Linked DNA regions of Homo sapiens. The protein of the gene in region 3 purifies or fractionates together with the protein of the main gene of each other region. This does not show direct contact. Each region holds a gene or a part of one and is shown on either strand. Other genes may lie near its edges.

The links.
Region 1: the proteins of ODAD3 (region 3) and MTFR1 purify together in Homo sapiens (affinity purification with mass spectrometry; 2 studies listed by BioGRID and IntAct, with this or other methods). This does not show direct contact.
Region 2: the proteins of ODAD3 (region 3) and RGPD5 purify together in Homo sapiens (affinity purification with mass spectrometry, with the first as the bait; 3 studies listed by BioGRID). This does not show direct contact.
Region 4: the proteins of ODAD3 (region 3) and CEP170 purify together in Homo sapiens (affinity purification with mass spectrometry; 2 studies listed by BioGRID and IntAct, with this or other methods). This does not show direct contact.
Region 5: the proteins of ODAD3 (region 3) and GOLGA5 purify together in Homo sapiens (affinity purification with mass spectrometry; 3 studies listed by BioGRID and IntAct, with this or other methods). This does not show direct contact.

What each region holds. Positions count from the first base shown.
Region 1 is NC_000008.11:65,643,378-65,647,533, forward strand, and holds the start of MTFR1 (mitochondrial fission regulator 1 isoform 1 precursor), read left to right. Parts: upstream 1-1,356; 5' UTR 1,357-1,407; exon of another isoform or gene 1,408-3,118; intron 3,119-4,156. UniProt on the Homo sapiens protein: May play a role in mitochondrial aerobic respiration. May also regulate mitochondrial organization and fission.
Region 2 is NC_000002.12:109,797,292-109,800,821, forward strand, and holds part of RGPD5 (RANBP2-like and GRIP domain-containing protein 5/6), read left to right. Parts: intron 1-3,530.
Region 3 is NC_000019.10:11,428,608-11,432,137, reverse strand, and holds part of ODAD3 (outer dynein arm-docking complex subunit 3), read left to right. Parts: intron 1-1,117; coding exon 1,118-1,239; intron 1,240-1,361; coding exon 1,362-1,439; intron 1,440-3,530. UniProt on the Homo sapiens protein: Component of the outer dynein arm-docking complex (ODA-DC) that mediates outer dynein arms (ODA) binding onto the doublet microtubule. Involved in mediating assembly of both ODAs and their axonemal docking complex onto ciliary microtubules.
Region 4 is NC_000001.11:243,161,278-243,164,807, reverse strand, and holds part of CEP170 (centrosomal protein of 170 kDa), read left to right. Parts: coding exon 1-524; intron 525-3,530.
Region 5 is NC_000014.9:92,797,305-92,800,804, reverse strand, and holds part of GOLGA5 (golgin subfamily A member 5), read right to left. Parts: intron 3,398-3,500; 5' UTR 3,368-3,397; coding exon 2,824-3,367; intron 1-2,823. UniProt on the Homo sapiens protein: Involved in maintaining Golgi structure. Stimulates the formation of Golgi stacks and ribbons. Involved in intra-Golgi retrograde transport.

The DNA.
Region 1 (4,156 bases), on a different chromosome or scaffold from region 3:
GGTGCTTTAAGACATTTTCCTTTTAATAAATAAGTAGGAAACAACATATAATCTCGTAAACTCGATGCTAAAGTTCCTCTATGGACTTTGGAAAGGCTGGCGAAAGCCAGCGTGCCTGAAACACAAGCTTCATTAGCTTAGCAGTAAATACCCTCCGGAAAGATCTCAGAGGAAGAAATTAGTGCCCTTTGACAGAATCGCCACCGTCCATTGCTCCCACCCTTTCGGCTCCAAAGCTCCTGCTCTTTCATTCAGCCTCAGACAAGCACTCACTTCTCAGGAAGTATTCCCTGAGACATTATGGAGGCGCCCAGGCTCCCACCTCGATTCCATTATAATATTTGATTAAGTTTGTGTTTTTGTTTAGTTTGTGTTATCTCCTCGTTATCTTGTAGGCTCACTTAGGGCGTGGCTCAAGGCTTTTAACAACCTTTCTGCTGTCATAGTTGTCCCCCAACAAGCCGTTGTTGAGTAAATGAGTTAATGCTCTGGGTGAAGGAGGAAAGCCCTCACTAGGAAGAGACTTGTGCCACCCGGGGCAAGAACATCAGAGATCCAGTGACAGCCCAGCGACCTCCGGGATCAATTGCAATGGGAGGGTAAGAGAGACAGCCAATCAGCAACAGCCTCTTCAAAAGCCATACAAAAATACGGACAGGTTTCCTACCCTACATAGGAATCTTTCATCACGCCTACGCACATTACTACACTGCATAAGTTAGCTAGAAATGTAATAATCATATTTTCACGACAATTATTTGAAATCCAGAGTGTCCTAGAGTATTCAAATCTTTAGAAAGCACGTGCCCCAAATGAATCGGACTGAACAGACGCTGGAACCGAACATGGTAAAGTAAAATACTTATCCATGAGGCACTTTGTAATCCCCGCACTCCTGCTCTGCCTAAAGAGAAACATCTCGGATGTGAGGTCCGCATAGGCATTAGATCTGCCGGGTGGACACAGGTCCCTACAGCGTGGGGTGAAATGGGCTCCACATGTTAGGTTAACAAAAGCTTACGACTCGCAGCCTTTTTCAAGGTAATACACATCTGCGGCTACATTCAGAATGTGGGTGTCCCTAAACCCCTAAAGCATGAAGCTGACAAAAGCACTTCCCAGGACAGGACGGTGAAGGCACAAAGCAAGGTCCGCACAAAAGCACACGCCCCTCTCAGAGCTCCGCGCGTGCGCACACCGACTGTGACTCTCAGCAGCCGGCTTGCGGAGCGGTTGCCGCGTCCTCTGCCGAGCTTCTTGTGCCCGCCTCCGAGCCTGAGGAAACAGCTGATTGATCAGCCTGGCTCAGGCTTGGGGCGGGGATTGGCTGATTGGCAGCAACGCCACGGGACAGCCAAGCTAGAAGCCTGAGGAGCCGGAGAGGGTGCTGGCTGCCGCGCGGCCGAGGTGAGTAGGGTGGGAACTCGGAAAAGCGGTTGGCTAGCGGGTGATGAAGTCGGCTGCAGGCCTGACGGCGATGGGATGCCCTGGAAACAGTCAGAACAGGAGCTGAAGGAGCTCGGTTCGGGAACGCAGGGAGGCCGGCGGGATCCTGGGCCGGTTGAGTGTTTGCCCCGCGGCCGGGAGGCAGAGACTGCCTCGGCTGAGGGCGCGTGGGTCGGGGGCTCCGGAGGAGCTGAGGGAAGTCGGCTGACTTGCCCTGAAGGCTGAGACTCGCCCACCCGCCAATCTACCCCTACACCTCCTGCCCCCTCCCCCGACCTTCGGTCCATCTTTCGGACCCCCGGTTCCCGCGCCGGCCGCCAGGCGGCGGTCCTGGGGAGACCGCCCTTCGCGGCGGCTCCCTTGGGTGCTGCGCCCTTAACGGGCTCAGGAGCCGGACTGCGCGGGTGCACCGCCAGCCGGCCTCCGGGAGGAGCAGTGCGCTGGCTGATCCGCCGGGAAGTTTAACCAGCTTCCTGTGGTTGCTGTGTCGCTTTTCGCCTCCTAGAACTTCCCAGTGTATCTTCTGACCATGACCAGGGTTTGCAGGAAACCCCAAAGCCGGCCTTTGGGCATTAACAACAGCAGCATTTTATTATGGAAATCTTCAAACTGTGGAGAAATTGAACGAAGGATATAAGGAATTCACTGTACTCATTACCCAGTTTCAGTAATTATCAATACGTGGGCAGTCTTGCTCCCCTAATCCGGGTTATTTTGCGTTTTTGAGACAGGGTCTCTGTCACCCAGGCTGGAGTGCAGTGGCGGGATCTCTACCCACTGCAGCCTCCACCTCCTGGGCCCCAGCGATCCTCACGCCTCAGCCTCCCCACTAGCTGGGACTACAGGCAGGCGCCATCACGCCCGGCTTTCCCCCCCCCCCCCCTTTGTAGAGATGGGGTCTCCTTATGTTGCTCAGGCTATCTTTGAACTCCTTGGCTTAAGCGATCCTCCCTCCTTGGCCTCCCAAAGTGTTGGGATTACAGGCGGGAGTCATCGCACCCGGCTATCCTGGGTTATTTTGAAGCAAATCCCAGACATTATATAATTTCAATTATTTTACATATTTCTATGCCTCTGTCATGATGAATAATCATACATATAATAATTTGCTTTCTAGAGGGGTCAAGTAAAATAAGGGACATATTAAAGTGTAGACAGTGCTCATTTAGTTTGTACTACCAGAATTTAGGTAACTGCTACAGTGCAGTTTCATTATCTTGTGCTCAGGTTTTCAAAATCAGAGTTACCAGATAATCTAGACAGTAGTGCTCTTGCTTTTGAATAGTAATAATTGTATTGATAATTTCTATTTGTCGAGTTCTTAGTATGTATGAAGGACTGTGAAGTTGTTTCCACCTACTCATTTAATTTTTGCAATAACCCTATGAAGTAGGTATTATTATCCCCATGTTAGAGTTAGGAGAAAGAAATTTGGAGAGGTCACAATTTACCTGAAGTCACACTGCTGAAAGGATGGGGGTGGGGGTAGAATTCAGAATGCTACTCTTGGCCTTTGTCATTGCAAAGTTCTTGCTCTTTTAACTGTAACAATGTCCTAGGAGTTGTGGAATAAATGGAACTGCTGTGGAAAATTATTTCTGTTAAGCCACAAATCAGTAATGGAAAAAAAAAAGCCTGAAAATTTACACAAATACAAACAATAGTGAGAGAGGTATGTTTGTTCTTTGAAAAGTTAAAGATTATTACAACTAAATTTGATGTCCTGAGAAAACATAGCTCAACAAATACAAGTGCTAAAAATTTTATTCTTGGCCAGATGCATGGCTCAGCCGAGCACTTTGCAAAGGCCGAGGCAAGAGGACCCCTTGAGACCAGCCTGGGCAATATAGTGTGACACTGTATTTAAAAAATAAAAGTAAAATAAACATTTTATTCTTTAATATGTAACCAGTTAGAGAGAAAAGGAAAATATACATCAATGAATAGCCTCTACCACTCCTTTAGCACATAGCATATATTGGATATTAATACTAAATATTTCATCTATATCCTTCATCCTCCCAATCTTAAACTACTAAGACAACATCTTCATCCAAATAGTGTTAGATGAATAAGGAATGAGATAGAAACAGCTGGGCCTCCTCTACTTATTCAAAGGACAGTAGAGAAGGACTATTAGCTTGGAGTTTAGGAATCCTACTGGATAGGAGTAATTCAGAAGTCCAGAAGTCAGGTCAGAATCCTTTGTGAAGGAACTTGAGTGCCACTTAAAGAGTTTAAACTTAATGAGCAAAGAAGTGACATGATCAAAGTTATCTTACAGGAAGATAGATACAGGAAGATAGCTGGTACTGTCAAAGGTGGCTTTACCAGTCATGTGAAAGGATTAGCAGTTGGTTGACCTGATAAATATAAAGGAAATAGACGTGGGGAACTGGCAAATTTATGGATATGAGGAAAGGACCAGACAGAGAATACAGCCTGAAACAGAGAAAAGAGAATGGTATATAGTAGGATTTTTTTTGTTTTTGTTTCTGTTTTTTTTGAGATGGAGTTTTACTCTTGTTGCCCAGGATGCAGTGCAGTGGTGTGATCTCTGCTCACTGCAACCTCTGCCTCCTGGGTTCAAGCGATTCTCCTGCCTCAGCCTCCCATGTAGCTGGATTACAGGCGTAGGCCACCACGCCCAGCTAATTTGTATTTTTAGTAGAGACAGAGTTTCACCATGTTGGCCAGGCTGGTCTTGAAC
Region 2 (3,530 bases), on a different chromosome or scaffold from region 3:
AAACTCAGCAATTTAAACCCTCAAATGTGGTCAAACTGGTCAGATAATCCCATCAATTTCAGCTTAAAACACTGATTGATTGATTGATTGTCTGTCTACCTGGAATACCCTTACTAACCAACTTCTCCAACCCGGATTGGTTTTTCTTCCTCTTTGCTACACAGCTGTGCTCTTGGGACTTCCCTTTATCACCAGTTTGAGAATTCCCTTCATCTTTTTTCTGAGTTAGACCCTTTGTTTCTTGTATCTCATGTCCTCTTCATTTACTTTCTTTGTTTTGGTGTAGCATAGTCTCACTTGCTTTGAGGAAAAGTGGATGAGAGGTTTTTTTGTTTGTTTTTGTTATGGGACAGAGTCTTGCTCTGTTGCCCAGGCTGGAGTGCAGTGGCATGGTCTCAGCTCACCGCAACCTCCGCCTCCCAGGTTCAAGTGATTCTCCTGCCTCAGCCTCCCGAGTAGCGGGATTACAGGTGTGCGCCAGCATGCCCGGCTAATTTTTTCTATTTTTAGTAGAGATGGGATTTCACCATACTGGTCAGGCTGGTCTAGAAACTAATGGTATGTCTTTAAAACATCTTTACTTAATTTAGTTGATCATTTGGTTATCGAATTCTGAGTTTCAAATAATTTTTTTCGCAATTTTGAAAGCATTGCTTCATTTTCTAGAAGTTCTGTTGTTAGGAGTCCCATGAGATTCTTGTTCTTGGTAACTTAAAGGTTTTCTGGAAGTGTCCTTTCAATTGGGAAACTCATTTCTTTCAGTTCTGTAGCATTTCTTGTATTATTTCTTTAACCATTTCTTACCCTTTTTTTTAATGATGTTTACCTGAAAGCTGGAGTTTCTCTAATTTTTCTCTTATTCTCCTCTTTTGTTTGTTCTGCCTTTTGAGAGATTTCCTTACCCTTATGTTCCAGGGGAAGAAGATTGGGGAACTCATGGTTCAGTATCTAGACTTTTCCTCATTGTCCTGTATAATCACGGCCTTCACCCTTGTTGGGACTCCACAGATTTGGAGCTGATCAGATGGGTTTGTTGAGAACAGCAGCTTTTTTGGAGGATTTTAGGGGGAGGGAGATTCATTTGATTGTGCAAGATGGGCGACAGGGTGAGACTCCGTTTGAATTAAAAAAAAAAGAGAGAGAAATTTAGAACTGCATAATGAAAAAGTAGGCCACAAATATTAAGTTTTGGACAATTACAATTACATCTCTATCTTACTGTGCAAGATAGCGATGATGTGGCATCTCTTAGGGTCTTACTGTTCCTGTTTTCAGCCCTGCATCAGTTCTTGATATTTGACAGCTTAAGTGAATTCAGGTATTTGCTTATAGTGACATCTGCTGTCATGTAAAGAAGTACTGCTTGCATCAGATATTGTCCTGTTTACATAACATGGGCTGTGCTCCTTTCTAGCTGTATATCTTTAAACAAGGCATTTGCCTGCTTGAGCTTCAGTTCCCTTGTAAAGTGAGCAGGTTAGAGGCAAAAGATCATATAGAAGAATAATTTGTAAAGTTGTTTAATTATCTTAAGATTGTCTACTTTAATAACATAGTTGGAAGCAAAGAAGGTAATGGAATTATTTTTCTATTATGTTTTAACATAGTTGGAAGCAAAGAAGGTAATGGAATTATTTTTCTATTATGTTTTGGCATTGTACCTTGAATCTATTTCTTCATTTTGAAAAGGGGGAACTGGCGGGCTCGGTGGCTGATGCCTGTAATCCCAGCACTTTGGGAGGCGGAAGAAGTCAGATCACAAGGTCGAGAGATCGACACCATCTTGGCCAACATGGTGAAACCCCATCTCTACTGAAAATACAAAAATTAGCTGGGCATGGTGGCATGCGCCTGTAGTCCCAGCTTGTACCCGGGACGCAGAGGTTGCAGTGAGCTGAGATCGAGCCACCGCACTCCAGCCTGGCGACAGAGCAAGACTCCATCTCAAAAAAAAAAAAAAAAAAGGAAGGGGGGAACAGGCCTTGTTCCTTTATGTGCTGTCCTGACTGTTGTGTATTATTTTTGTTAAGATTGCTATAGTTCTTTTTTTTTTTTGAGACGGAGTCTTGCTCTGTCGCCAGTGCTGGGATTGCAGGTGTTAGCCTGGCATTGAGCAAGGTTTTGTAATTTAAGCATACAAGTCTCTCACCTCCTTGTTTACATTTATTCCCAGGCATTTTTTTCTTTTAGATGCGATTGTAAATGGAATTGCTTTCTTAATTTCATTTTCTGATTGTTCGTTGCTGGTACAGTAGTCCCTTCTTATCCACAGTATTGCCTTACGTGGTTTTACTTACCTGCGTCACCCGTGGTCCAAAAATATTGAATGGAAGATTATATAAATAAACATTTCATGAGTTTTAAATTGCAAACAGGTCTGAATAACATGATAAAAATCTCACGGCCTCCTGCTCCGTCCTACCCAGGACACGAATCATCCCTTTGTCCAACATATTCATGCTGTATGTGCTCCCCACCCGCTAGTTACATACTAGCCATCTCAGTTATCAGATCAGTTGTTGGAGTATTGCAGTGCTTGTGTTCAAGTAACCTTTATTTTATTTAAAATGGCACCAAAGAGCAAGAATAGTGATGCTGGCAGTTCACATATGCCAGAGAGAAGCCATATAGTGCTTCCTTTAAGTGAAGAGGTGAGTTTTTGACTTAGGAAAGAAAAAAGATCATATACTGGGGTTGCTGAGATCTATGGTAAGAACAAATCTTTTGTCCATGAAATTGTGAAGAAGGAAAAAGAAATTTGTGCTAGTTTTGTTGTGACACCCCAAACTGCAAAAGTTACAGCCACAGTGTGTGATAAGTGCTTAGTTGAGATGGACAAGACATTAAATTTGTGGGTGGAGGACACAAACAGGAAGCATGTTTCGATTGATGGCAACCTGGTTTGGTACTATTCATCGTTTTTGGACATTCACTGGGGTCTTGGAATTTCAAAAATAAGATGTTTGAGTAGCTGTATACTCTATCACATGGATGGAACATACTCTGGTTGTATCAGCATTTTTTTTTTTTTTTGAGATGGAATCATTCTGTTGCCCAGGTTGGAGTGCAGTGGTGCGATCTTGGCCCACTGCAGCCTCTGCCTCCCGGGTTCAAGCGATTCTTTGCCTCAGCCTCCCAAGCAGCGGGGATTACAGGCGTGTGCCACCATGCCCAGCTAATTTTTGTATTTTTAGTAGAAAGGAGGTTTCTGTATGTTGGCCAGGCTGGTCTCGAACTCTTGGCTTCAAGTGATCCACCCGCCTCAGTCTCCGAAAGTGCTGGGATTACAGATGTGAGCCACCGCACCCAGCCTGGTGTGCATCAGCATTTTGGACTTTGGAGTTTATGTAACCAAGGATCCAGGCTGTGGACCTCGTTTATTACTTGAAGAATTCAATATTTATTTCTGCCTTTTTGACTCCTTGACTGTAAAATACTGATCTGATCTGTAGAGAGAACAGTACATGGACCCGGGAATCCTCAGTGCCTTAATAGATCCTAAGTACTTACTTATTCTTTCCCATAGAGGC
Region 3 (3,530 bases):
TTTTTGTTTTGTTTTGTTTTGTTTTTTGAGACAGAGTCTTGCTCTGTTGCCCAGGCTGGAGTGCAGTGGCAGGATCTCAGCTCAATGCAACCTCCACCTCCAGAGGTCAAGTAATTATTGTGCCTCAGCCTCCTGTAGCTGGGATTACAGGCACCCACCATCATGCCCGGCTAATTTTTTTTTTTTTTTTTTTTTGAGGCAGAGTCTCGCTCTGTCACCCAGGCTGGAGTGCAGTGGTGCGATCTCGGCTCACTGCAAGCTCTGCCTCCCAGGTTCACACCATTCTCCTGCCTCAGTCCCCTGAGTAGCTGGGACTACAGGTGCCTGCCACCATGCACGGCTAATTTTTTTTTTTTTTTGTATTTTTAGTAGAGGCGGGATTTCACTATGTTAGCCAGGATGGTCTCGATCTCCTGACCTCGTGATCCGCTCACTTTGGCCTCCCAAAGTGCTGGGATTATGGACGTGAGCCACCGTGCCCGGCCATGCCCAGCTAATTTTTGTATTTTTGTAGAGATGGGGTTTCACCATGTTGGCCAGGCTGATCTTGAACTCTTGACCTCAGGTGATCCGCCCGCCTCTACCTCCCAAAGTGCAAGGATTACAGGAACGAGCCATCATGCTCAGCCTCACACCTGGCTAATTTTTGTATTTTTAGTAGAGATGCGGTTTTACCATGTTGGCCAGGCTGGTCAACGACTGCATTCTTATAATATTAAGTTGATGAGCCTGGCACAGTGGCTCACACCTATAATCCTAGGACTTTAGGGGGCCTAGAACTTTGGGAACACCTGAGGTCAGGAGTTCGAGACCAGCCTGACCAACATGGAGAAACCCCATGTCTACTAAAAATACAAAATTAGCCAGGTGTGGTGGTACATGCCTGTAATCCCAGCTACTTGGGAGGCTGAAGCAGGAGAATCTCTTGAACCCGGGAGGCGGAGGCTGTGGTGAGCCGAGATTGCACCATTGCACTGCAGCCTGGGCAACAAGAGTGAAACTCCATCTCAAAAAAAAAAAAAAAGTTGATGATTGCAAAAAAGGTCTTTCCTCTGGGATGTTGCACCCATGCACCCACCCAGTAACTGTGTGTCTGTCCACCTCACCTGCCTGCCAGAGGGTGACCGGAAGGCTTTTTTTGAGAGCTCTCAGTGGAACATCAAGAAGAACCAGGAGACCATCAGTCAGCTCCGCAAGGAGACTAAGGCACTGGAACTAAAGCTGCTGGACCTGCTCAAGGTAAGGGGCAAAGGGGTGGGTGTAGGGTTCCCGTGGCGGTGGATGGTGGGGGACAAGTAGGTAGCACCTGGCCTTAGCTGGAGGTGGCATGCTGAAAGGTGACTGGACTTCCCTCCTTGCAGGGAGATGAGAAAGTGGTCCAGGCAGTGATTCGCGAATGGAAGTGGGAGAAGCCATACCTGAAGAACAGGACAGGACAGGTTTGCCCACCCTCGCCCCACCTCCTCCTTCATTTCCAGCCTGGGTCCCCTCACCACTGGACTCCAGGCTCACCCTCTCCAATCCTTCCTGCACACTAGCTGCCATTCATGTGCTCATTCAATTAAATCTTTATTACTCACTTTCCTTGTATCTGGCATCCTGGCATGGTAGTAAATGCAGTGAAAAAGCAGACCAAGTCTCCACTTCTAAAAACAGCTCATATCCTAATAGGGAAAACAAGTTAAAAAAAAAAACATCACAGCCAGGCGCGGTGGCCCACGTCTGTAATCACAGCACTTTGGGAGGCCAAGGCGGGCAGATGACCTGAAGTCGGGAGTTCAAGACCAACCTGACCAACATGGAGAAACCCTGTCTCTACTAAAAATACAAAACTTAGCTGGGCATGATGGCACGTGCCTGTAATCCCAGCTACTCGGGAGGCTGAGGCAGGAGAATCGCTTGAACCCGGGAGGCAGAGGTTGCAGTGAGCCGAGATTGTGCCATTACACTCCAGCCTGGGCAACAAGAGCGAAACTCCGTCTCAAAAAATAAATAAAATAAAAATAATTAAAAAAAATAAAACATTTTAAAAGTCATTGAACCCAAGAGGCAGAGGTTGTAGTAAGCTGAGGTTGTGCCACTGTGCTCCAGCCTGGGAGACAGAGTGAGACTCAGTCTCAAAACAAACAAACGAAAACAATGACCAGTGGCACATGCCTGTAATCCCAGCTATTCAGGAGGCTGAGGCTGGAGGATTGCATGAGCCTAGAAGTTTGAGACTATAATGAGCCACAATTGCACCACTGCACTCCAGCCTGAGTGACAGTACAACCTGTTTCTTTAAAAAAAAAAAAAAAAAAGGCTGGGCGCGGTGGCTCACGCCCGTAATCCCAGCACTTTGGGAAACCGAGGCGGGTGGATCACGAGGTCAGGAGATCGAGCCCATCCTGGCTAACACGGTGAAACCCCGTCTCTACTAAAAATACAAAAGGCCGGGCGCGGTGGCTCATGCCTGTAATCCCAGCACTTTGGGAGGCCGAGGTGGGTGGATCACAAGGTCAGGAGTTCTAGACCAGCCTGGCCAAGATGGTGAAACCCTGTTTTTACTAAAAATACAAAAATTAGCCAGGTGTGGTGGCAGGCACCTGTAATCCCAGCTACTCAGGAGGCTGAGGCACAGAATTGCTTGAACCCAAGAGGCAGAAGTTGCAGTGAGCTGAGATCGCACCACTGCACTCCAGTCTGGGCGACAGAGTGAGACTCTGTCTCAAAAATAAATACATAAATAAAAAATAAAATAAAAATAAAAATACAAAAAATTAGCCAGGCATGGTGGTGGGCGCCTGTAGTCCCAGCTACTCAGGAGTCTGAGGCAGGAGAACAGTTTGAACCCGGGAGGCGGAGCTTGCAGTGAGCTGAGACTGGTGCCACTGCACTCCAACCTGGGTGACAGAGCGAGACTCTGTCTCAAAAAAACAAAAACAAACAAACAAACAAAAACAAAAGATAAAAAATTAAAGGCCGGGCGCGGTGGCTCACGCCTGTAATCCCAGCACTTTGGGAGGCTGAGGCGGGCGGATCACCTGAGGTCGGGCGTTTGAGACCAGCCTGGCCAACATGGCGAAACCCCGTCTCTACTAAAAATACAAAAAATTAGCCGGGCATGGTGGTGCATGCTTGTAATCCCAGCTACTCAGGAGGCTGACGCAGGAGAATCCCTTGAACCCGGGAGGTGGAGGTTGCTGTGAGCCGAGATCATGCCATTGCACTCCAGCCTGGGCAACTCTGTCTCAAAATAAATAAATAAATAAATAAATAAATAAATAAATAAATAAAAAATAAAACACAGTCTAGGCATGGTGGCTCATGCCTTGTAATACCAGCACTTTGGGAGGCCAAGGCTGGAGGATCACTTGAGCCCAAGAGTTTGAGACCAGCCTGCCAACATAGTGAAACTTTGACTCTACAACAAATACAGAAGATTTGCCAAATGTGGTGGCACAGGATTGTAGTCCCAGCTACTTGCCAGGCTGAGGTGGGAGGATCACCTGAACTGGGGAGGTCGAGGCTGCAGTGAGTCATGTTCGTGC
Region 4 (3,530 bases), on a different chromosome or scaffold from region 3:
TCATGGACGGACTCCACTTACCTCAGCTGATGAGCATGTACATTCCAAACTGGAAGGAAGTAAAGTAACGAAATCTAAGACTTCTCCGGTGGTATCTGGTTCATCTAGTAAATCAACCACCCTTCCAAGGCCACGACCTACCAGGACTTCCCTCTTGCGCAGAGCACGACTTGGTGAAGCTTCAGACAGTGAACTTGCTGATGCTGACAAAGCATCTGTTGCTTCTGAAGTATCCACAACAAGTTCTACATCAAAACCTCCCACAGGAAGGCGTAACATCTCTCGGATTGATTTATTGGCTCAGCCTCGTAGAACACGACTTGGCTCACTGTCAGCTCGTAGTGACTCTGAAGCAACAATTTCTAGAAGTAGTGCCTCTTCGAGGACCGCAGAAGCCATCATTAGAAGTGGAGCCAGACTAGTACCATCAGATAAATTTTCTCCTAGAATTAGAGCTAACAGTATCTCTCGACTCTCAGACTCCAAGGTCAAAAGTATGACCTCAGCTCATGGCTCTGCTTCAGGTAAATTGGATCCAGATTTCTAATAGCATTAGCATGTTGTATATTTGGGGGCTCCTTTTTTTTTTTAAAAAAAAAAGTAAGGTTCTAGTTGTCTTCCCAAGATACTCATTCAAAACAAAAGTTATGATATACGGGGCAGCGGCGGTGGGGGGTCTATAAAACAGTTTTATTTAGCATAGTAAATGGAAAATCAGAAGTTATACATACTTCCAATTAGAGTCCTGGCGCAAAATAGTGATTTCAAAACTAGGAATTCATTGAGCTGATTTAGGAGTTTTAATTTTCCAGTTGGTGCTATATTTGGATGTGTGTGTCAAAATTAAATTATCTGGAAGTATCTGGTTTAAAGTATAGGAATTAACATTGTGCTTCTAAAAGCATGTGTTTAACCTTTAAATATCCTCACATAATTCAAAGCCCTTAAGAACTTGAAGAAAAGCAGTATATGCTTTATTACTCCTTTCAGAGTTAAATGAAATAATCAATGTTTTCTTTTTTTTCCCTACCCATTTTGAAATGTCTCACATACTTTACCTATACTTTTTAAAGTTAAATCTGTTTATAGTTGGAGCAGGTGAAAACTAACCTTAATTTATTTCAGTGGAAGAAGATGGATTCATGGGGAATCACTCAGCGTATATTGGCCAAACTGGGCTGTAGAAATTTAACTGGTTATGAGCATTATCTCACAAAGTGCTGTTATATCATTTAACTCTAGTAATTAGGTGTAATTGAATATAATAACTACAAAAACTACTTACTTTCCACCAGAATTTAACTGATGCTGTTATATTTGTTTGCTTATGTGCTTTGTATTCAGAGCTGAGGCCATTGAGATACATGTGTGACCAAAGAGTAATGAGGTGGATATTTGTTTGTGTCCTATATGCATGTTCTCATTACTTCATAATGAGCCTCATATGTGGACGTGGCTGCAAAGGCCAGTGTGGGAGGCCAGCTGTTACAACGGACATGAAGATGTGTGATTATTTTCAGTAGGCAGACATCTAAGTAAGCCCTAAGTCTTGAGTTAAGAGTGGAGGGGAAGTTGATATGAAATTTCATCTTTTTATTTTTGATTGGTTTACATCTACCACACCATCTCCTACAAGACCCTAAAGGAACAGTACTTTGCATATGATACTTTTTTCACTTTTCTTCCTCTTTTCACTGCTGCTTTCCTCCACTCCATTCACCTGTATCTCTTTGCTGGTCAGTGGGTTTGGTAATGATGGTCACTGTCTATGGTAGAAATGGACGTAGGGTGAAGCCAGATAGCATATAATCATGATTCCAAAAAAAATAGACAACATTTTCCTTATTACCCCAGTCCTCATTTCCACACTTGAAGCTTTGGTTGGTGGTTCACAAATTTATTGCCAAATATTTTAAAACTAACTACTACATTTTGGTTTATTTTCATTCTGTTTTTGGTTATGGCTCTACTTCAATTCACATTTCATCTGTGCTGCATTTCCTGATGAAATTTCTTCTGCTGTACTCCTTGTTTTATCACCTCATCTCCATTAAGATATGTATGTATTTTCCTGTCTTAACATAATTTCTATGTTACCAGATAGCTTGGAGTACCTCTTAACACATGATGTGGTTTTATTCCTCGATATTTAGGATAAGGCTTGAGATGCAAGCTAAATATGATTACTTCAGCAAGTCTAAGAAACAACTGTAAGATGCTATATATAAAGACAGATTTCATTTTCTGCTTCTTTGAATACAGAACTTGATAAATACTCAGTTTTCTGTGTCCAAAAATAACCTTGAATTGTGTATGAAATTCCCTAGGACACATTGATGTATATGATTTTAGTCTTTTCATACTTACTAGCAGTATATTAAATAATTAGAATCATGGAATTTAAAAGTTAGAAGGGTTATTCTCTTAAGGGAACCAAGGCCAAGAGAGGAAATAACCTGCCCTGGGCACATGGCAGTGGCAGGGGCAGAATAAGAATCAAAGACTTTTAATCCCCAGCCTGTTTTTCTACCGTATCTATTCTAGCTCTAAGAAATAGTTTCAGTGTTTACTTGTATGCAAGCTTCCAGAAGACAGCTAGAATCTACTGGATTATTATCAGGAGTATATGCAAGGTCAATATACAATATAAAGGTTTTGGTATTGTTTACTAAAATCTTTGCAGTTCTGATGTTTTACCCAGTTTATATTCTCTATTCCACCTTATGAGTGTAAAGCCATATTGTAATCTAGGATTGTATATTCAGATTCTCTCAAGATACCCACTTATAGTATTAGACCTTATCTAGGACAGTGGCCAGGATCTTTCCTTCAGTGAGAACATACTATAATAGCTGTATGGAAAAGGTGGTCAAACAAACAAACCTACCTGTTTGATTTTGCTAATTTGGTGCCTTTGATATTATAACATTTCTTTTTAAGATAATTATAATATTTTGAATGGAAAAAGAAAAGCAAAATTTTAACTTTTGAAACATGATTTAAAAGAATGTTAAATCATGCCGATCAGTGTTGCTGTGCACAGTATAAACTTTAAAGACCTTGGAAATAATCTGAACCTAGCACTTGTGATATTGTCCCAATTGGATATGTAAAAATAATTCCATAATGTTTCCAATTCCATATTTTAGATGATGTCTCTAAAATATTTTTAGGCCAGCACAGTGTTTCATGCCTGTAATCCCAGTATTTTAGGGGAGGCCAAAGTTAGAGGATTACTTGAGCCCAGGAGTTCAAGGCTGCAGTGAGCTGTGATCACACTACTGCATTCCAGCCTTGGACAAGTGAGACCCTGTCTCCATTAAAAAAAAGTTTTTTTTAAAGAAATGTATGTGATAAAAATAGAAGATTGGAAATCTCAGATTTAGCAATATGAAGAGAAGAGTTCTGTATGTTTCTCTGATGTAATTTGCAATTTGCTTCTAGGAGTTTAACTAGTTTTTTTTTCCCCAAAACATTCTTTCAGTGCTTCTTTTTTTTTTTTTTGAGACGGACTCTTGCTCTTGTTGCCC
Region 5 (3,500 bases), on a different chromosome or scaffold from region 3:
AGCTATGTCAACTCTTGACTTAAAGATCTCTACTAGCATCACACTGGCTATGGCAGCCACTTTCAACTTTTATTGGCTAAGAACCACCCACAGAACAACAACAACAAAATCAGATGCCCTGGCTCCATCCCCAGAAAATAACGATTCAGGAAGCCTGGGAAGGCACTCAATAATTCATTTTTAAATTAACAACACACAAGCGATTCTAAAGCCTGTTGTTCAGGAATCAATCTTTAACAATGATTATAGAAGTAATGGGTTTAATTGCATAAACAGTATGACACAAGGGCCTTCACAAACAGGTCCCAACTTTGTTTGCTAGCTACATTTTCTTCATCACCCTCCAACTCACTCAGTGTTTCCAACTTTGTTACAATGTTTTCTACTCTACTAGCCTCTTAGAGTCTGTTCTCTCTGCATGGAATGCTGTCTCTAACTTTTTACCTGGCAAACTCCTGTTCATTCTTTAAGACCCAGCTAAAAATACAGACCCTCTGTGAATCCTTTCTGAATACCCTAGGCAATTAGTTACTTCCTCCTTCATACTTCCACAACACTCTGACCATACTTAATTGCTACATTTACTAGACCACAAGTAAATTATCTGTTTACATGTCTAGCTCACCCACTGGACACTTCCATATCCTTGCACCTAGTAGGTTCTTTGTGTAATTAATTGAAAGATAGCTGAGAAGAAATTTTGGAATATGTGAACATATTAATCAACTGCTACTGCCTGATCCTATTTTCACAACCCAAAACGTCTTCTTCTATACAAGTTTTTGTCTTGAAAATACAAGAAAGATTTTATTCACTAACAGCCAAGACAATGAAAGAAGCTATAACATCCAAGAACATGACAATCTCCCATCAATAATCAACTCTATAAAGAATCCCTGGCCAGGTGTGGTGGCTCACGCCTGTAATCTCAGCACTTTGGGAGGCCAAGGTGGGCAGATGACTTGAGGTCCGGAGTTCAAGACCAGCCTGGCCAACGTGATGAAACCCTATCTCTACCAAAAAATACAAAAATTAGCCAAGGGTGGTGGTGCACACCTATAGTCCCAGCTACTCGGGAGGCTGAAATGGAGAATCGCTTGAACCCAGGAGGTGGAGGTTGCAGTGAGCTAAGATCGCGTCACTGCACTCCAGCCTGGGCGACAAAGCGAGACTCCGTCTCACAAAAAAATAAATAAATAAATAAATAAAAACATTAAAAAAGGCCAGGCACAGTGGCTCACGCCTGTAATCCCAGCACTTTGGGAGGCCGAGGCGGGCGGATCACAAGGTCAGGAGATCAAGAGCCTCCTGGCTAACAGTGAAACCCTGTCTCTACTAAAAATACAAAAAAAAAAAAAAAATTAGCCAGGCGTGATGGCAGGCGCCTGTAGTCCCAGCTACTTGGGAGGCTGAGGCAGGAGAATGGCATGAACCCAGGAGGTGGAGCTTGCAGTGAGCCAAGATCAGGCCACTGCACTCCAGCCTGGGTGACAGAGTGAGACTCCGTCTCAAAAAAGAAAAAAAAAAAAAAATCCCTATGGCCAGGCCACGGTAGATCATGCCCATAATCCCAATGCTGTGGGAGGTCAAAGTAGGAGGATCACTTGAGCTCAAGACCAGCCAGAGCAACACAGTGAGACACTGTTTCTATTAAAAATAATTTTTTAAAATTAGCTGGGCACAGTGGTGTGCACCTATAGTTCCAGCTACTCAGGAGGCTGAGGCAGGAGGATCGCTTGAGCCTGGGGAGGTCAAAGGTAGTGCGAGCTGTGATAGCATCACGGCACTTAAGCCTCGGCGATAGAGCAAGACCCTGTCTCAAAACAACAAAAGAATCCCTGCAAGAACCTACTATCAAGTTTTTTGCCTTTTTTCTATTTTTATCTTTGGAGACAGCGTCTCATTCTACGGCCCAGGCTGGAGTGTAGTGGTACAATCTCGGCTCACTGCAACCTCGACCTCCTGAGCTCAATCAATTCTCCCGCCTCAGCCTCCCAAGTAGCTGAGACTACAGGCATGCACCACTGTGCCTGGCTAATTTTTGTATTTTTTGTAGAGACAAAGTTTTGCTATGTTGTTTAGGCTGGTCTCAAACTCCTGGGCACGAGTGCTCTGCCTGCCTCAGCGTTCCAAAGTGCTCGGATTACAGGTGTAAGCCACCACGCCCAGCCTATAGCTATTTTAAAACAGTTAGTAGGTACTTGAATTAGCCACATTTACCACGTTAATCTCATTTCACAAGAAAGAAGGTGTACTTGTAGAGGTAATCTCAGAGGGAATTAAACAATTGAAAACAAGAGTTCTAAGCTCTTGCTTCACTACTAGGTCAATGCCTTCAACTCTTCAACTTGGATCAAAGTTCAGTCTCTCAGCTTTATTTGTGGAGGATGTGGGGGGAAAAACACACAAAAAACACAACCCAGAAAATACGTGAAGTACAGCCTCCTGTCATTTTTATAATCCTAGTAACAAAAAGATATCAACTGGGATAGTCCCCGATCCAAACTGACATGTTTTCTTTCAGATTTCAAAATTTTCTTTTTTTAATCTTAAAATGTCTTAGAGAAACAAATTTGAAATACTTTGTTAGATGCTGAGTGGGTGAAGTTGCCCTCCAGACAACATGAAGTCCCTGCTACAACTGTCTATTGACTAATAGTAGTCAATGATGTCTCCCTTGTTTACACCACACATTTGCAGAGAGTCTGCCCTTACACCAGTGGAGACAGATTCCATAACAGTAGATGAGAAACACCATCGGATCATATGATGACACATTCAATTTGCTTAACTCTAAAAGAAATAAGAGGACTGATTAACTACCGTGGGTTTGGCTCCCAAAAGAATTTTCTTCAATGGTTTTGATGGTGGTTACACTGGGGTTCACAGAACTGACACTTGATGTCTGAGAGCTCTGAAAGACAGGTGTCTTGCCTTTTTCCTTTCTGATTTCCACCCTCCCGGTAGGCTCCTTCTGTGAACTATTAAGAAAATCAAACAGCAGCTCATCATCAGGTTCTGACTTTTTTCTTCGCACAAAATGGGATGAAGGCCTAGGAACAGATGCATTTTCAACAGGATGAGAGGCCTCTACTGGTGTCCGAGATCCTACTTTCACATTTGCAGTGCCAGCTAAGATGGTGGCTTTTTGATTTCGAATGTTATCAGCTGCTGATGAAATATACGTAGATTTAGGTCCAGTCTGATATATCAAATCTGTATTTTGCTGGTGAAGTTCAGTATAGTCAGTATTTTTGCTATATATGTTGCTGGCATTGTCTTTCCTACTGAGAGCTGTTGCAGCCCCTTGATCAACTCGGTTTAAAAGATCTTCTGCCTTTCCAGCAAGATCAACAAACCAAGACATGATGGCAGCAGGATAATCCTATTGGCAAACCTGTAAAAAGGACATAAAATGATCAGTGTGGCATAGTGGCAGAGTATGATAAATGGTTAAGACCAGACTCTGGAGTCAGGCAATCCTGGGTTGAAATCCTAAC